Linked DNA regions of Homo sapiens: region 1 is linked to region 2. The links come from fine-mapping of genetic effects on plasma protein levels. Region 2 holds a variant in brackets. A gene starts in the other region. All regions are shown on their forward strands.

What was found. PIP is the posterior inclusion probability: the model's chance that the variant is causal. Protein levels are from antibody-based Olink assays in UK Biobank. Linkage for the fine-mapping came from a reference panel and not from the study's own genotypes, which makes the PIPs less certain.
Region 1: SIGLEC8 starts here. The variant in region 2 is fine-mapped to the plasma level of the SIGLEC8 protein (UK Biobank, PIP 0.98).

Annotation. Positions count from the first base shown.
Region 1 is chr19:51,456,918-51,459,828 of GRCh38, forward strand. SIGLEC8 (sialic acid binding Ig like lectin 8) reads right to left here and starts at 1,537. Exons shown (of 7, transcript NM_014442.3): 1 at 1,017-1,537; 2 at 544-822; 3 at 267-314. The coding sequence starts at 1,470.
Region 2 is chr10:15,480,311-15,483,221 of GRCh38, forward strand. No RefSeq gene overlaps it. Among named protein-coding and RNA genes, the nearest start is that of FAM171A1, 110 kb to the left of the region's middle. The variant A/G (reference allele first, on the strand shown) is at 1,050.

The DNA.
Region 1 (2,911 bases), not on the chromosome of region 2:
GAGTCTGATCCAGCTGTGTGAATGTCACCCTGTCCTTGCTGTGGGGCCAAGGAAGGGGTGTGTGGAGGAGTCTAAGGGGAGCAGGGACAGGATGGGGACAGGGGCTCAGATGGTCACGCGGGCTGGAGATGTGGGCTCTTGTGCCCTGGGCTCACGCACAGTGGCAGCTCTGTTTCCCAAAGTGATTCCAGGATGAGGAGAGACCCAGCCCCATCCTGAGCTGAAGGCCCTGCTCCCCCAACCCCAGGGAGGGGGCTCTGTCCTACCTGTGGCATCTCCTTGGAAGACAGTCATGGTCAAGTTCCAAGGAGGGTCTGGGACAGAAAGACATGAAGACCCACATTACTATAAGGACTGGGGACATTGGCCCTGTCTTCCCAGGAGCTGCAAATACAGGGAAAATGGAGTCGGCATTCTCCTGACCCCACTCCCAGCCCAGATTCTGGGACCCAGAACCCAGTGTCCAGGCTTGAACCCCATCCCCTGCCCTCAGGAACACCTCCCAACCCATGAGGGACCTGGGCATCTTGGTCCAGCACTCACAGGACACATCGAGGCGGACGGTACTGGTCGTGGTCACACCTGTCCCAGGCAAGGTCACCTGACAGGTGAGGCTGGTGCCGTGGTCCTGGGGCTTTGGGGTAAGGGTGAGCACTGAGGAGCGGGCAGTAGTGGGGCCCGGGGAGGACACGGAGGCCCCAATCCAGGAGATCATGGGGGGTGTCCCCTGCTTACAGGCCCAGGGCACAGAGCAGGTCAGGTTCCTGGAGTGGCCAGACTCTAGGGTCCCTAGGATGAGGATGTCAGGCCTATGGGTCAGGGCTGGTGAAGATGGGGACACAGGATCAGGAGGAGGTATTTCAGGTGCAGCCCTGGAGGAAGCTCAAGCTCTGGTCCAGCTCCTCCCCGGAGACCGACTTATTTCAATCCCAACCCCCTCCCAGGCCCCATCCCAGCCCTGCCTTTCAGCCCCTCATGACCTTCCCCTGTGGCCTGTGCTGGAGCCCGTGCCTTACCTGTCACAAACACAGACAGCTGCTTAGTTTTGTAATTCAACTGTGATTTGTAACTCCATTTCATGCTTCCTCTCTCTAGCCGAAAGAAATATGACCCCTTATCCCTCTTCCTGGCGTCTCTGATGCTCAGGGAGCAGTCGTTGCTCCAAATGTCCCCAAGGAGTTGGAATCGGCCCTGGGTCTCTGCCTGCACTTCTCTGTCTGGGTTGTTTGTGGCCACTGGAGCGTCTTGGTATGGTCTGTCTCCTGCCCGGAACCAGTAGCCATGAACTGGGTCAGAGTCAGTCCAGCCATCCTGGGGGTAGGAGAAGGAGCAGGGCACATGGACACACAGGCCCTCCTGCACCGTCACCAGCTCCTGCACTTGCAGCAAGTAACCATCCCCATATTGTCTGTCTCCCTCCATCCCCTTTGTCCCCCAGAGCAGGGGCAGCAGCAGCAGCAGCAGCAGCATGTCTGGGTTTGAAGGCGCCAGGGCCGCCAGGGAACGTCTGTTCCTCAGGGTTCTTCTCTCAGAAACTGAGGTCTCAAGACTTAGGGGAGGTCCCGCAGGAGGTTGGGGGTGAAGTCAGAAAAGTGACCTCCTCAGAGGAGGAACTTCACACACAGACACTGTCAGGGCCGGGTCAGTCCTGGGAGATCCACTGTCCACCACCCCATTTCCACTCCTGGGAACCCTGAGGCCAGAGAGGGTGAGAAACTCATCCAGATTCCCACCCTATGCAGGGCCCAACCTCTTTCTTGCTTCCCGGACTTGCCCTTCCATTTGGGTAACATTTTCTGCAAGGTGAAATTGGGTCCCATCTGGCCAGACCCCTGAATCACCCCCGGGGCTGTCACTGTTTGTGGAGGTCATACCAGCCAAAGGTGGAACTCAGGGCCATGAGAGACTGGGGTGCAGGTGAGGTGAGCAGGCAGCCTCTCCTCCCTCTCTCAGCAGCAACGAAGTGGGCACCTCCTCTTTACACAACGAGGTCAACAGAGCAGAGCCAGACACTGTCCTCAAGGAGTCACTGTGCAGAGGGGAGACACGGAGGCTCCTGACGTCTGAGCTCCCCAGGACGGGAGCTTCAGTGGGGGGCACAGGCAAGGTGGGGTCGTTCTCCCCTAGGTCAGGGGTTCAGTCTCAGGAGGCCTGAGCAGAGGGACACGGGGCTGTGGAGGTGAGGATTCTGCATGTTGATACACACGAAGGACGGGGGGCGGGGGGAAGCCTGGCTCGCAGGAGGCCTGGGAAACTGAGGCTGTAACTGTTGTACTGTGGGGTTTGGAAGGGAGAAATGTCAGAAGGGAAAGGGTCAATTTGAAAAGGGCACACACTTCTCCCTTTGTTGCAGCTATCTGGGTATCAGAATGGGTTTCTTCACCACCCGTATCTTACTCAGCCACACTTCCCCTGGTTACTGCACAGCAGGCGGGGTCTGTCAGCCCTGGGGCTTTGCTCCTGCAGGCTCTGCTTCCAGGGGTCCAGGTGAACAGGTGTCATGGAACGAGGACACCAGCCCTGGGGTGTGCACCTTCAGCGATGGGCAGGATTTCTTGAGAGAAGAAATGTGCACCTGAATTCAACAGATGATGATGATGATGATGATGATGATGATGATTATTATTATTATTATTATTATTATTATTTGAGACGGAGTCTCTCTCTGTCGCCAGGCTGGAGTGCAGTGGCGCGATCCCGGCTCACTGCAACCTCTGACTCCCTGGTTCAAGCGATTCTCCTGCCTCAGCCTCCCAAGTAGCTAGGATTACAGGCATACGCCACCACATCCAGCTAATTTTTGTATTTTTAGTAGAGCCGGGGTTTCACCATGTCGACCAGGATGGTCTGGATCTCCTGACCTCATGATCCACCCACCTCAGCCTCCCAAAGTGCTGGGATTACAGGTGTG
Region 2 (2,911 bases):
AATTTCACTGGTCGTCCAGTAACTCTTCTTATCTGTCTACTGACTAGGGACATCCAGCAGCCATCTCCTTGATGCTGTTAATCCCAGTATGCAGGTTACCTCCCTGCAAATGTCCCTGTAAACAATGACTAAGTCAACTTTAAAATCTTATATCCAGAAGACTTTTTCTTTCTTTTTTTTTTTTGAGATGGAGTCTCGCTGTGCTGCCCAGGCTGGAGTGCAGTGGCGCGATCTCGGCTCACTGCAAGCTCCGCCTCCCGGGTTCACGCCATTCTCCTGCCTCAGCCTCCTGAGTAGCTGGGACTACAGGCACCCACCACCATGCCCGGCTAATTTTTTGTATTTTTAGTAGAGACGGGGTTTCACCGCGGTAGCCAGGATGGTCTCTATCTCCTGACCTCGTGATCCGCTGCCCGCCTCAGCCTCCCAAAGTGCTGGGATTACAGGCGTGAGTCACCACGCCCGGCCCAGAAGACTTTTCCAAGAATGTCTTTTTCAATACTTTTTCAAGAAGGGGAGAATTAAAAGTAATGGCAAACACCGCAATAACTTTTGCACCAACCTAAATACTGCAATTAGTTTATACTTACCTAAATACTAACGTAGATACTTACTTAAATACAACTATACTTACCTTACTACTGTAGTAAATAGTTACTATACTTTTACCTAAATGCATTCCACAGTCACTTTACTATGAATCTTCCTAGGCTCTGCATGTATTTAGGTTCGTTCAAAAGTAATTGTGCGTTACTTCTGCACCAAACTAAATACATTCAGAGACAATGAAGATTCTCATTCCTTGGTAGCTGTTTCTCTTTCATTTTGACTCCTCCTCTCCTGGCTCTGCTGACCCCAGAACCCAGGGACCATGTCTGTCTTGCACATCACCACATGCCCAAGGGCAAGTCTACTTGCTGAATAAATGAATCAACGTCTTCAGGCTCAGTCTTTTTTTTTTTTCTATTTCATTTTCTTACATTTCTATGTGTCTCTCTCAGTTGATGAATAGTTTATTAGTCCTAACTATTGCATTTGTAATCATGACT[A/G]TATTACATTTTGGTATATTTTCAATGCTGGCATCTATATGTAAATCTAAAACTAAATGGAATTTAAAGTCTCTACCCAAACAAGGCAAACATATTGCAGCTATCATCTAAATAGGTCATTGACAGATACTTTTGAAACAATTGGTGAGACTTGGAAATGGAGTAGCTATCAGAAAATTATCGATAATTTTCTTAGTAGTAATAACTGTGATTATGTAGAGAATGTCTTTATTTTAAGGAGATGGATAATTATAATATTTAGAAGTGAGTGTCATGGTGTCTTTCAAGTGACTTGCAATACCTATTTATTATCTGTCTACCCATTATCTAGATAAAACAAATACAGTCGGGCACAGTGGCTCACGCCTATAATCCCGGCACTTTGGGAGGCTGAGACAAGTGTATTGCTTGAGCCCAGGAGTTCGAGACCAGACCGGGCAACATAGCAAAATTTCGTCTCTACAAAAAATACAAAAATTAGCCAGGCATGGGGCATGCACCTGGAGTCCCAACTACTCGGGGAGGCTGAGATAGGAATATCACTTGAGTCCAGGAGGTCAAGTTTGCAGAGTGAGATTCTGTCTCAAAAAACAAAACAGAACACTCCAATATGGTGGAGTGTTAAAAATTTTGGTTCTTGATGATGGGTCTATGTGTTATTATCATTTTATTCTTCTATATGCTTGAGAATCTCCATAAAAACATTTTAAAAAGTGATATAGCAGATGTTTCTGATCTTGGGGACAAGTATGAACTGATCTTGCTCAGGGTTGCCTCCCACCTGAATCACATTTGAACCATGAGTGTTGCAGAGTAATCTTTCCTTCAAGAAAAAAGTCTCCCATCTTCCCTGGCAGCCTATTCTGAATTTTCATCATCTTTACAGTCAAGAAGTTCTTTCTTCTGCCTATTTCAAATGGTAAAGGAACTCGTTTAGCTCTCAGCTATTTTGGTCTCTTCTGATTTCATAACAGGGTGGTTTGCAGAGTGTGTTAGATTTCGACTTTTCTTCAGGATTCATGTTCCCATGGGCATTCTGGAATGGCTGGTAGGAGAGATTTCTCTCCAGTGTGGTCTGATATTTATCTGGAAACTCTGCAGGGAAACAGCACAAGGTACTCTGATGCTGAGCCACACAGCCTGATGCCTGTCCCCCAACTTTTGTTTTTGTTTTTGTTTTTTGGGGGGGTTTTTTTCAGAGATGGAGTTTCGCTCTGTCGCCCAGGCTGGAGTGCAGTGATACGATCTCGGCTCACTGCAACTTCCACCTCACGGGTTCAAGCAATTTTCCTGCCTCAGCCTCCTGAGTACCTGGGATTACAGGCGCCCACCACCACACCCAGCTAATTTTTTGTATTTTTAGTGGAGGTGGGGTTTCGCCGTGTTGGCCAGGGTGGCCAGGCTGGTCTCGAACTCCTGAACTCAGGTGATCTACCCGCCTCAGCCTCCCGAAGTGCTGGGATTACAGGCATGAGCCACCGTGCCCGACCTATTGGCCTATTTTTCTTTCTATTTTTCACACATTTCTTATTTACTTATTGTCTACCTCTTCCACTAGAATGTACACTGTGAGGGTGTGGCCTTGGTCTGTGTCAATTTGGACTCAGTGGTTGGAGTTTACAGAATGTTTCTTTTTTGGCTTCGATGTCTTCCCGGGATGCTTATCCTTCATTAAGGATATTTCCTTCTAGTCAGTTCCGTTCTAAAGGAGCCACCATTATAAGAGACACCTCATTAGGAGTTCCATGCTTAGGGGCACTTGGGCAAACAACAAGAGGTCATTCTCCAATCGTATTTAATCTCTAGAATCTCCTAGAAACAGAATAACTTTAGCTAATTGCCCCCAAATACTTTTCCTCAAG